Regions from separate parts of the Homo sapiens genome. Here region 1 is linked to region 2. Evidence: fine-mapped expression QTL. Tissue or cell type: anterior cingulate cortex. Region 2 holds a variant in brackets; the other region holds the start of a gene. All regions are shown on one strand. Distances are from middle to middle.

What was found. PIP is the estimated chance that this variant, and not a neighbour inherited with it, causes the effect.
Region 1: it holds the start of TMEM44-AS1, and the variant in region 2 is fine-mapped to the expression of TMEM44-AS1 in anterior cingulate cortex (GTEx, PIP 0.97).

The regions. Positions count from the first base shown.
Region 1 is chr3:194,581,508-194,587,131 of GRCh38, forward strand. TMEM44-AS1 (TMEM44 antisense RNA 1) reads left to right here and starts at 2,761. Exons shown (of 3, transcript NR_047575.1): 1 at 2,761-2,941. RefSeq lists enhancers at 2,027-2,692, 2,728-2,777 and a silencer at 2,278-2,537.
Region 2 is chr3:195,045,753-195,052,018 of GRCh38, forward strand. No RefSeq gene overlaps it. Among named protein-coding and RNA genes, the nearest start is that of XXYLT1-AS1, 46 kb to the right of the region's middle. The variant T/C (reference allele first, on the strand shown) is at 3,292.

The sequences.
Region 1 (5,624 bases), 460 kb before region 2:
TCATAATTTTTTTTTTTTTTTTTTTACTGTGTGTGAACTGAGAATTCATGCTGTGAGAACAGGCAAAGCCACTCAGGCACTGCAGTAGATGATTTCAAGGTAATTCATGTCTGTTCTTCAATCCATGGTTCTGTGATATTTTAGGTTTAATGGCAAAATGTCATTTCTTCATTAAAGCATAATGTTTGGGCCAGGTGTGGTGGATCATGCCTGTAGTCCCAGCGCTTTGGGAGGCCGAGGAAGGTGGATCACTTGGGGTCAGAAGTTCAAGACCAGCCTGGCCAACATGGCGAACCCCGTCTCCACTAAAAATACAAAATGTAGCCAGTCATGGTGGCACGCGCCTGTAGTCCCAGCTACTCGGGAAGCTGAGGCAGGAGAATCGCCTGAACCCAGGAGGCAGAGGTTGCAATGAGCTGAGATGGCACCACTGCATTCCAGCTTGGGCAACAGAGACAGACTCCATCTCAAAAAAAAAAAAAAAAAAGTATGTTTAATTCTGCACAACAGTGGGGTTTGGGAGCTTTATCACTTTTTTTTTGTTTGTTTGCTATTCTAAGTAGTTTTGTGAGAACATCTCATACAAATAGATCTGTTTTAAAAGTAATTTCCCGGCTGGAGTGGTGGCTTGTGCCTGTAATCCCAGTACTTTGGGGGACCAAGGCAGGAGGATCTCTGGAGCCCAGGAGTTCGGAACCAGCCTGGGCATCATAGTGAGACTCCGTCTCTGTATTTGAAAATGATAACAAAATACCAAGAAGAGATGGAAAAAGTAAATACATAAAAGCAATTTCCCGAGGACAGTGTTTTTCAGAGACTGGTCCTGGACCATCTGTAGCAGAATCACCTGAGGAGCCTGCTAAGCTTCCCAAGCCCTGCCCAGACCTAGGGAATCCTCCGGGTGGAGCCTAAGAGTCTACATTTGAGTATCAGGGCTTTAGGCTATACTGGCTAGCAGAAGGTAAGGCCCATGAAATGGCCCTTTTCATCCATGGCCATGCTGTCCTTGGGAAAGATGGTGGTGGCCGCCGTGTATGACGTCCCTTGTTCCAGCTGTGGGTTTAGAGAATCCCTCAGATTTCCTCTGGAGATTCCAGGTGCCAAGACACCTGTAGGAGGAAGGCCGGAAGGGAAAGGTCAAGTCCGGAGCAGAGGCGTGGACCGCGGCAGGCTGCTGTTGGAGCGTGCTGGGCTCAGAAGCCGGGTTCTAGCTAGGAAACTGCGGAGTGGCCAAGGAGTTCCTGGCGCGAGGCACGCCACACAACCCTCGGATGCGAAGACGGTGACCATCCATTTCTCAATACGCCAGTGGCCCTGCCGTGCTACTGAGCCTCGTCAGCCTGTATAATGGAAGCTGAAGATGATGCAGCTCAGGAAAAGCAAGTATGATCTTAAGAACCCTGTAGCTGGAAAGCATGTTCCAAATCAAACCTAATGGAGACAACTACTAGAAGGTATAAAAGTTTTTTTTTTTTTTGAGACAGAATTTTGCTCCTGTTGCCTAGGCTGGAGTGCAGTGGCGCGGTCTCAGCTCACTGCAGCCTCTGCCTCGCCGGTTCAAACGATTCTCCTGCCTCAGCCTCCCAAGTAGCTGAGACTACAGGCGCCCACCACCACGCCCGGCTACTTTTTGTATTTTTGGTAGGGACGGGGTTTCACCATGTTGGCCAGACTGATCTCAAACTCCTGACCTCAGATGATCCGCCCGCCTCACCCTCCCAAAGTGTTGGGATTACAGGCGTGAGCCACCGCGCCCAGCCCAAAAGATTTTAAAAAGGAGTCTCTTGGAGGCAAAGGGACAGAACATTATTGTTTTTCATCATAAACCTTTTGGTGCAATCTGATTTTCTTTTTTTAAACCATGTACTTGCACTATTTTTATCTCAAAAAAGGTTTTTAATGCATTTAAAAACAAAGAAAAGAATGGTTTATAATACACCGTTAGGCTTCTGGGAGGTCTGAAACACACTATGAACCGTAAAATAACCTTGTAATTATCTCCTTAAAAACCGAGTGGGGTGGGCCAGGCGTGGTGGCTCACGCCTGTAATCCCAGCACTTTGGGAGGCCGAGGCGGGCGGATCACGAGGTCAGGAGTTCGAGACCAGCCTGACCAACATGGTGAAACTCCGTCTCCACTAAAAATACAAAAATTAGCCGGGCGTCGTGGCGCGCCCCTGTAGTCCCAGCTATTCAGTCGCAGAAGAATCGCTTGAATTCGGCAGGCGGAGGCTGCAGTCAGCAGAGACCGCGCCACTGCATTCCAGCCTGGGCGACAGAGACTCCGTCTCAAATAAACAAACCAAAACTGAACTACGGAGACGCCCTCGACAGTTCTTTCCCGGCTGCGTCGCCGCTGGCTGAGGTCAGAAACGCCGGCCTTCGGCTGCGGCGGCGGCTGCGGCGGCGGGGCGGGGCCGCGGGACTCTCGCTCCTCGCGGGAGGCGGTGGCTGCGGAGTGCGCACGCGCGGAACCGCAATTCCGTTCTTCCCGGAAGTGCCCTGCTGGTGCTGGGAGTAGGGCGCAAGATGTCGGCGGATGCAGCTCCGAGGAGGTAGGCAGTGGGAGCCGGCGTTCAGTCCGGCCCGTGCCAACAGTGGTTCCTCTCTCCCCCGTAGTTCGAGGAGACCACGCGCTGCCCCTCTGGCACGATCGTGGATGAACCCCCTGGCAACTGAAATGGGAAAGGCAGCGCCCCCGACTCTGGGGACTGGACCGAAGTCCACGGTAGTGACAGCTGCCAGACCCTGAGGAGAGGACGAGAAGACCCGAGGCCTCTGCTACGAACACTGGCAGCCGATGGAAAATTCAGACGGATTTGGGACAGTATGCAGAGTTCTCCAAGCGACAGATTAACAGAGGCTCTTGAAGAATAACTGCGTAATCACGTGTTCTGCTCAAAAGAAGGCCTGAATGCCCAGTGCCTTATTTGGCTTTCAGGGTTGGTGAAAGAAAAAGCAAAGTAGATGCTTTCTAATGCTAAGTCATTTAATGTAGCACCATTCCTTGAACTTCTTTCATCTCTAAGGTCGTCCCTTTCACCTGATGATGACCTTTGGGCCATCGTACAGGCATGTGTAAACTTGGAGATCTTCCTCAACATTGCACCATATCTTGGGTTCATTCAAGGCAGAGTCTCCTTGCAAAAGCATTCTAAAACAATGTAAAGTCGAAGAGAGTAGAGCAATACCTCCATAGTTGGAAAATGTGGAGGAGGCCAATTAAGGGACAGAAAAAGAAGTGCAGAGAATCTTGGAATTGTTGCAAAATTATTCTGGAGATATTTCTAAGTCTCCTCTATCCTTTTCCTTAGTGATTAATACAGGTTTTTATATTAAGTGGACAGTAAAATCCAAACAGAAAGAGGTATATGTCGTATAATGAAGCCTATGTTCAAAGTATATCTGAAATTTGTTTTTATAATGTCTTTCTTGAGAGCTTATAAAGATGTCAGTATTCTGTGGGAAACAAATTGGCACATGCATAAAAGAGAAAAAATGAAAAAAATCAGGCCCAACTTTCAGTTTACAGATGAGGAAACTGTGACATAGAAAAGGAAATGACAAAGATCACACTGAATCAGACCTGGGAACTGGAGCCCAGCCATGCTCCTTGGCCCAGTGCCTCTTCTTATTCTAGGAGCTCATACCCCTTTGAAAGAAACATAATATGAATGTGTCTTCAAATGATGCTCATAAATCTCTTCATCATACTGAGGGAGGGAGATAAGGGGATTAGTTCTTCAGGATCTAGACAGGCTTTCAAGAAAATCTTTAGCTGGGTGCGGTGGCTCATTCGTGTAATCCCAGCGCTTTGGGAGGCTGAGGCAGGTGGATCACCTGAGGTCAGGAGTTCCAGATCAGGCTGGCCAACAGCGTCTCTACTAAAAATACAAAAATTAGCCAGGCATGGTGGCGGGAGCCTGTAATCCCAGCTACTCGGGAGGCTGAGGCAGGAGAATCGCTTGAACCTGGGAGGCGGAGGTTGCAGTGAAGTGAGATCGTGCCATTGCACTCCAGGGCAACGAGTGAAACTCCATCTCAAAAAAAAAAAAAAAATCATCATCATCATCATCTTAGCAGAGCTCTCGCTAAATGATAAAGACTTGGCAACTGATATCCTTTTTTTCAGAGAACTTAAGTAGAGACTGGATAATCACTAATTGGGGTTGTGTTTAAGGGCATTCAAACCTCTGAAATCTCTTCCATCTGCAGGTCTAATTATTTGGTTACTCTTTCAGTACATGTGTGCAGGAAGCATGGGGGGAAAGAAAACTAATCCCTCTCCAAAGTCTTCTTTGAATAGGTATTATGTTTGCATTTTCATACATGTTAGTTCACTTAGTCTTCACCATAGGCTTTCTAGGTTGGTATTATTCTTAGTCTACCTAAGAAGTTCACAAAGGTTAGGTGACATGCTCCAAGCCACACAGATGATAGGCGGCACAACCAGATGATACTACAGGTCTCCAGATGAGTGAGCCAATGATTACATAGTTTGTTCCCCAGCCCCTCCCCAGTGTAGGTAAAGTGCCTGCACTGCTCACTGGGTCATCAGAGCAAGTTGCTCCCACTGCCCTCTTGGTCTAACGGCTAGAAACAAAGCTGCAACAGAGGCCCACTCCTACTAGGAGACAGGCATTTTAATTGGCACCTCCTTACAAAGGCTCCAGTGTTCTAGAGCTTTGCATACAGGAAGATTCTCGTTGAACAATGAAGCCAAACCTCGCTTCCAAAATTCCCAGTTTGGTAGTTCACTGTGGATGAAGAGGCCGGAGACACCCTTAGACAAGCTGGGACCGTGATGATAGGAACCAGTTTGTGAAGGGAGGAGGCTGGGCTAACAGGATCTAGGGAGATAGATGATATCTGGACCTTAGGTAGTTCGTGTTACTCAAAGTCAGCAAGGTTTTTGTTGTTTTTTGAGACAGTCTTGTTATGTTGCCCAGCCTGGAGTGCAGCAGTGCGATCTCAGCTCGCTGCAACCTCCACCCCGTGGGTTCAAGCAATTCTTGTGCCTCAGCCTCCTGAGTAGCTGGGACTACAGGTGCGGGCCGCCACACTTGGCTAATTTTTTGTACTTTTAGTAGAGATGGAGTTTCACCATGTTGGCCAGGCTGGTCTTGAAGTCCTGTCCTCAAGTGATCTGCCTGCCGCAGCTTACCACAAGTGCTGGGATTACAGGTGTGAGCCACTGCACCTGGCCAAGATCATTTGATGTTCTTGGGTGAATGGCCACTTTCACCTGGATCCCACCAATTTTTGGTGCCCTAGGGAGCATGATCCAGAGTTCCCTCAAGACAGAGGATGTGCTAAAGGCAAACTCCAGAGGTCATCCTATCCCCATGCCTTCCGCCTTTCTAAAGAGAAGCTCTTCTGCCCTGCTGTTACCACTCAGTACTCTAGATTAAACCTGTTCCCCACGTTCATTCTGTACCCATGACTATATTTCTGCTTCCTGGAAAGTTGTAGCCATAGGAATGAAAAACTCACCAATCAGTTGTGGTCTTCCTGAGGCAAGTCAGTCACCTTCCTACTCTGGTATCTTCCATGGCTACCAGCTGGCCACAGAACCAAGCACTGACTCACCAGCCTCCAGTCTGGTTCCTTTTCAGCCTTTTTGCC
Region 2 (6,266 bases):
AGTGCTGAAGGGCCCTCCAGCTCCTGACCTCCTGGGGTCAGCAGGGGCTTCAGCCTCCTCCTCGACACAATCCTGCTTCCTTCCTTCTCCCCCACGGGCCTCAATCCCAAGAGCTCTCTCTATACATGCCCTGCACGCCAATCACTGTGGAGTCTGCTTCCCGGGGACTCCAGCCTGCGGTAGCCTTGACAGGCTCTGACATTCAGTTCCCTTCTCCGTTCTCCTCCTCCACCTCCATCACTACAGCATGTTAAGCACTCACTGTGTGCAGGGCCCGGGATGAGAACTTTAAGTGCACTGTTTTGTCAATTCCCAAGACCACCCTGGGAGCTTCATCTTACAGGTGAGGCTCAGAGAAGTTAAGTGACCTGCCTGTGTCCCCCAATAGTAGGTGGAGGGTCGGGGCTGCTCTGTCTGATGCCACAGCCCAGCTTCTATCCAGCTCACCCTCCTGCATCTCAGGGAGGCCCACACACTCATGCGGACCTCTGGAGTTGTGGTAGGGGGGTAAAGAAAGGGGGACTAGGAGCAGGGTTCTGAAAATGCCTGTGACACTCAGGAAAGTGCCAGCTGACCCTGGCTTCCCACAGTAACCCCAGGGCCAGCAGCCAGGGCTCCTGAGCCATGCAGGAGATGCAGCCCCTATCCTCTAGGAACAAACAGGCCCATGGGGAAAAACACATGTATGTCCCTACTACAGGGCTGCCTCTGATGAGCCAGGAGAGGGGGCCCGGGAGGACTGGGGAGACTTCCTCTAGGACATGAGATGCAGGGCACCAGGCAGAAGCCAGGGACGTGCAGGTTCTTGGCGAACCTGTAGTGTGGGATGGATGGCAGGGGAGGGGCCACAGCCAGGCCACAGAGCGGCAATGACTGGAGCTTCTCAGGAGGCCAGAGCCAAAATGGCCCTCCAAGGGCAGCCAACCTGGGTGGCCAAGCGGAGGAGCCCTCTGGGTGGGGAGGAACTGCCCAGGCCTCCGGGGCAATAGGAACAGCTGCAGGTCATTCCTGGAAAAGGAGAATTAACCCAAGCCAAGCCAAGGCCTCCCTGCCTCCTGGGAAAGGCACAGTGGGGTGGAAAGAATGGAGGCTTTGGAATCAGAAAGCTCTGGACCACCCCTCAGCTCTCCCACATGCTAGGGATGTGGCTCTGAGCAAGCCATTTAATTTCTTGAAGCCTTGTGTCCCTCATCTATTGAATGGGCACAATGTCCCCTCCTTTCATGTTTAAATAACATGATGTATATCTAGCACGTGGAATTGAGCAGGCTCACAATGGCCGTTCCATCCTGTTCCACTTTATTTCAAGGCCAGTGACTTGGAAATTAACACGAAATGCCCACCACTCCTCCTGGAATGTGGCAAGTTATATTCAGTGGACCCTTCCTCCATGTAGAAGGCTCTTGGCCATCCTTGAAGATCCGTTCCAAAAGCTCCCTCCATCTTTTTTTGTTTGTTTGTTTGTTTTTGAGATGGAATCTTGCTCTGTCACCAGGCTGGAGTGCAGTGGCACAATATTGGATCGCTGCAACTTCTGCCTCCCGGGTCGGAGCGATTCTCCTGCCTCAGCCTCCCGAGTAGCTGGGACTACAGGCACGCACCACCATGCCCAGCTAATTTTTGTATTTTTTGTAGAGACGGGGTTTCACCGTGTTGGCCAGGATGGTCTCGATCTCCACCTCGTGATCCACCCACCTTGGCCTCTCAAAGTGCAGGGATTACAGGTATGAGCCTCCATGCCTGGCCACTCCCTCCATCTTTACATGGTCCATCTCTCTCCTCCAAGGCACTCCTCACATGGAGGACGTTTCTGTCTTACAGTCCATAAAACCAGAACAGATGAGAGAGTTGAAAGGGACCTCGATTCTGAGATACTCCAGAACAGCAATTGTCTCAAAAGGTTTCTGTGGATAAATACATTTGGGACATGCTAGGTTAAAAATAAACATGGCCCTCTCCTGCAGGACTGATCAGAGCCTTTAATGCACTGAGGAGCACTAAGAATCCCCAAGAAGGGGATCCAGTGTGAATGGAGTGTTTCTTAAACATTTGCCCAAGAAACTTTTTTGACCACAGAGTAAGTATCCTTTAACATGGGGATACTGATCTAAGCTCATAATTATTTTATAGATGGGAAATTGAGGCCCAGAGTGGCGAATTAATATACTCAGAGTCACACAGGGTATCAGAAGCAGAGCTGGGGCTGGAACCCAACCTCCTCCCTTTCAAGGGTCCTAGAAAATGGTGTTAGTTGTTTTCCAACAGCTGCTTGGACAAGAGGCGGCAGATACAAATGAGTCCATGGTGCCTCGTCTTGCTGCTCCCGTGGAAGGAGGTCGCACACACCACCCCACTGCCATTCTCACCTCTCTCACTCCTGATAGTGCCGGTCCCTCTGCATCCTGTTGCACTGCTCTCTGCCTCCGTTTCTTACCAGCACCTTCTGTATGGCCAGAGCTGTATGCCCAGCTCCTCCCTCAGCCTAGCTGCCGGCAGAGCTCCATGAATATGAGGAAACGCGAGTCAGTGGAGAAGGAGCCCCATCAGCCTGCAGCACTGGGGCTGGGGGTGAAAACAGAAGCAGGCAGGGGACAGCTTGGCACCAAAGCCACCTGCAGACACGAAGAGAATAAAGGTGTCCCTTTCCTCTGCAGGGAATGCTTTACTTATTCCAGCAACATTTAGGTGGATATGTTGCCCCACTTCTCAAAGCAAGCTGTCCACTTCCTATACTTAGGCAAGAGTGAGCAGACTGATACTGGGTTTCAGCTAAGAATAGGCCTTTGGCTGACCATCTAAAGTCAGGCCATCCTCGTGCTGCTCTGCTGTTTCATGCACTGGGGACATGGTCTTTAGGGTCCAGTGACTGTCAGAAAGGGAAGCAGCCTCCAGCCATACAATCAATCCATCGCCCATCCGTCCAGTCATCCGATCAACCAACCAGACACCAAACAGCTTCCTATCCACTCACCTGTACGTTCAAGGGAAACAGGCAAAGGATTGCATCAGCAGTGATATGCTGATTAACCACTTGCTCTCCGGAACAAAAAGCCCTGGCTTGTGCCATTTGCCAATTTCCATGGTGTTACTATTCCCACAATTTTAAGTTACCAACGTGATGTCACTGATGTGGAACTGGGAAAAGATGGATAGTAGCACACTCTCATATAGTATTTCTACCATACACATACAGATAACCTCAAGGGCATAGATTATAGTAAAATGTAGGATGATAATTAATAATTGATGTATTTTGAATATTGACTACCTTTGTTTTTAGGATCTAATTGA[T/C]GGTTTATCTAATTTAATTATTTATTTATTTTTGAGATGGAGTCTTGCTCTGTTGCCCAGGCTGGAGTGCAGTGGCACAATCTTGGCTCACTGCAAGCTCTGCCTCCCGGGCTCAAGTGACTCTCCTGCCTCAGCCTCCTGAGTAGCTGGGACTACAGGCACCTGCCACCATGCCCGGCTAATTTTTGTATTTTTGGTAGAGACAGGGTTTCACCATATTGGCCAGGCTGGTCTCGAACTCCTGACCTTGTGATCCGCCCACCTTGACCTCCCAAAGTGCTGGGATTACAGGCATAAGCCACCGCGCCCAGCCAATTTAATTTTTAATAATGGTTGTTTTGAACAACTGGATCACAAAATTCTTGAAAAATTAATAATCAGCTTTCCCAATATGAGGTGGCTCCAGCTCAAGGTAGATTTGGAACACAAAGGAAAAAGTTCTTCTATACTGGAAGCAGGAGTTGAAAGGCGATCACAGTGAAATAATGACAGTCAACTCCTGTAAGTCTATACTAGGGAAGGAGACCAGTCTGACTTAGCTATGTCTGAAGCACACAGTTTAAAACGATCTTTAATTCTTAAAAAAAAAAAAAAAAGCTTTTATTTGAGGTTCAGGGGAACATGTGCAAGTTTGTTATATAGACTCATGTCATGGGGGTTTGCTGTACAGATTATTTCATCACGTAGGCACTAAGCCTAGTATCAAGCACTTAGCTTTTTTGCTCCTCTCTTCCTCCCACCCTCCACCCTCAGGTAGACCCCAGTGTCTCGTTCCCTTCTTTGCGTCCATGTGTTCTCATCATTTATCTCCCACTTGTGAGAACATGGGGTATTTGGTTTTCTGTTCCTGCATGAGTTTGTTAAGGATAATGGCCTCCAGCTCCATCCATGTTTCCTCAAAAGACATGTCTCCTTCTGTTTTTTTTTTTGGCTGCATAGTATTCCATGGTGTGTATGTACCACGTTTTCTTTATCCAATCTGTCACTGATGGGCATTTAGGCTGGTTCTATGTCTTTGCTATTGTGAGTAGTGCTGCAATGAACAGTCAGGGCCATGCGTCTTTATAATACAATGATCTCTGTTCCTCTAGGTATATACCCAGTAATGGGATTGCTGGGTCGAATGGGAGTTCTGCTTTTAGCTCTTTGAGGAATCGTCACACTGCTTTCCACAATGGTTGAATTAATTTACACTCCCATCAACAATGTATAAAAAAAAAGTCTTCTTTTCTCCACAACCTTGCCAGTATCTGTTCTTTTTTGACTTTTTAATAATAGTCATTCTGACTGGTACGATTTGCATTTCTCTAATGATCAGTGATGTTGAGCTTTTTTTCAAGTGCTGTTTGGCCCCGTGTATGTCTTCTTTTGAAAAGTGTCTGTTCATGTCCTTTGCCACTTTTTTGTTTGTGTTTTTCTTATAAATTCGTTTAAGTTCCTTATAGATGCTGGATATTAGACCTTTGTCAGATGCATAGTTTGCAAACATTTTCTTTCATTCTGTAAACTGTTTACTCTGTTGATAGTTTCTTTTGCTGTGCAGAAGCTCTTAAATTTAACTAGATCCCTTTTGTCAATTTTTGTTTTGTTGCGATTGCTTTTGGCATCTTCGCCATGAAATCTTTGCCTGTTCCTATGTCCAGGATGGTATTGCCTCGGTTGTCTTCTAGGGTTTTTATAGTTTTGGGTTTTATATTTAAGTCGTTAGTCCATCTTGAGCTGATTTTTGTATGTGATGTAAGGGAGGGGTCTATTTTCAGTCTTCTGCATATGGCTAGCCAGTTATCCCAGTACCATTTATTGAATAGGGAGTTCTTTTCCCATTGCTTGTTTTTGTCAGCTTTGCTGAAGATCAGATGGTTGTAAATGTGTGGCCATATTTCTGGGCTCTCTGTTCTATTCCATTGGTCTGTGTCTGTTTTCGTGCCAGTAGTATGCTGTTTTGGTGAAGTATAGTTTGTAGTATAGCCGTGTAGTATAGTTTGAAGTTGGGTAATGTGATGTCTCCAGCTTTGTTCTTTTTGCTTAGGATTGCCTTGGCTATTCGGGCTCTTTTTTTGGTTCCATATGAATTTTAAAATACTTTTTTCTAGTTCTGTGAAGAATGTTGTTGGTAGTTTGATAAGAATAGCATTGAATCTATAAATTGCTTTGGGCAGTATGGCCATTTTAATGACATTGGTTCTTCTTAGTCATGAACATAAAATGTGTTTCCATTTGTTTGTGTCATCTCTGATTTCTTTGAGCAGTGTTTTGTAATTGATTTCTTTGAGCAGTGTTTTGTAATTCTCATTGTAGAGATCTTTCACCTCTCTGGTTGGCTATATTCCTAGGTATTTTATTCTTTTTGTGGCAATTGTGAATGGGATTGCCTTTCTGACTTGGCTCTCAGCTTGGCTGTTGTTGGTGTATAGGAATGCTCGTAATTTTCGTACATTCATTTTTTATCCTGAAACTTTGCTGACGTTGTTTACCAGTGGAATGAGCTTTTGGGCTGCGAGTATAAGGTTTTCTAGATGTAGAATCATGTCATCTGCAAACAGGGTTGGTTTGACTTCCCCTCTTCCTATTTGGATGCCCTTTATTTCTTTCTCCTGCCTGATTGCCCTGGTCAGGACTTTCAATATGTTGAATAGGAGTGGTGGGAGAGGGCATCCTTGTCTTCTGCAGGTTTTCGAGGGAAATGCTTCCAGCTTTTCCCTGTTCAGTATGGTGTTGGCTGTGGGTTTGTCACATAGATGGCTCTTATTATTTTGAGGTACATTCCTTCAATACCTAGTTTATTGTGAGTTTTTGACATGAAGGGATGTTGACTTTTCTGAAAGCCTTTTCTACATCTGTGGAGGTAATCATGTAGATTATCTTCAGTTCACGACATATTTAATTCCATTGCATTCATGTATCCTGAATAATTTCAGTCCTATTTTGCTTTCCAGGGTCAACAGTATTCAGTTAAGCACCACTTTCTTCTTGAG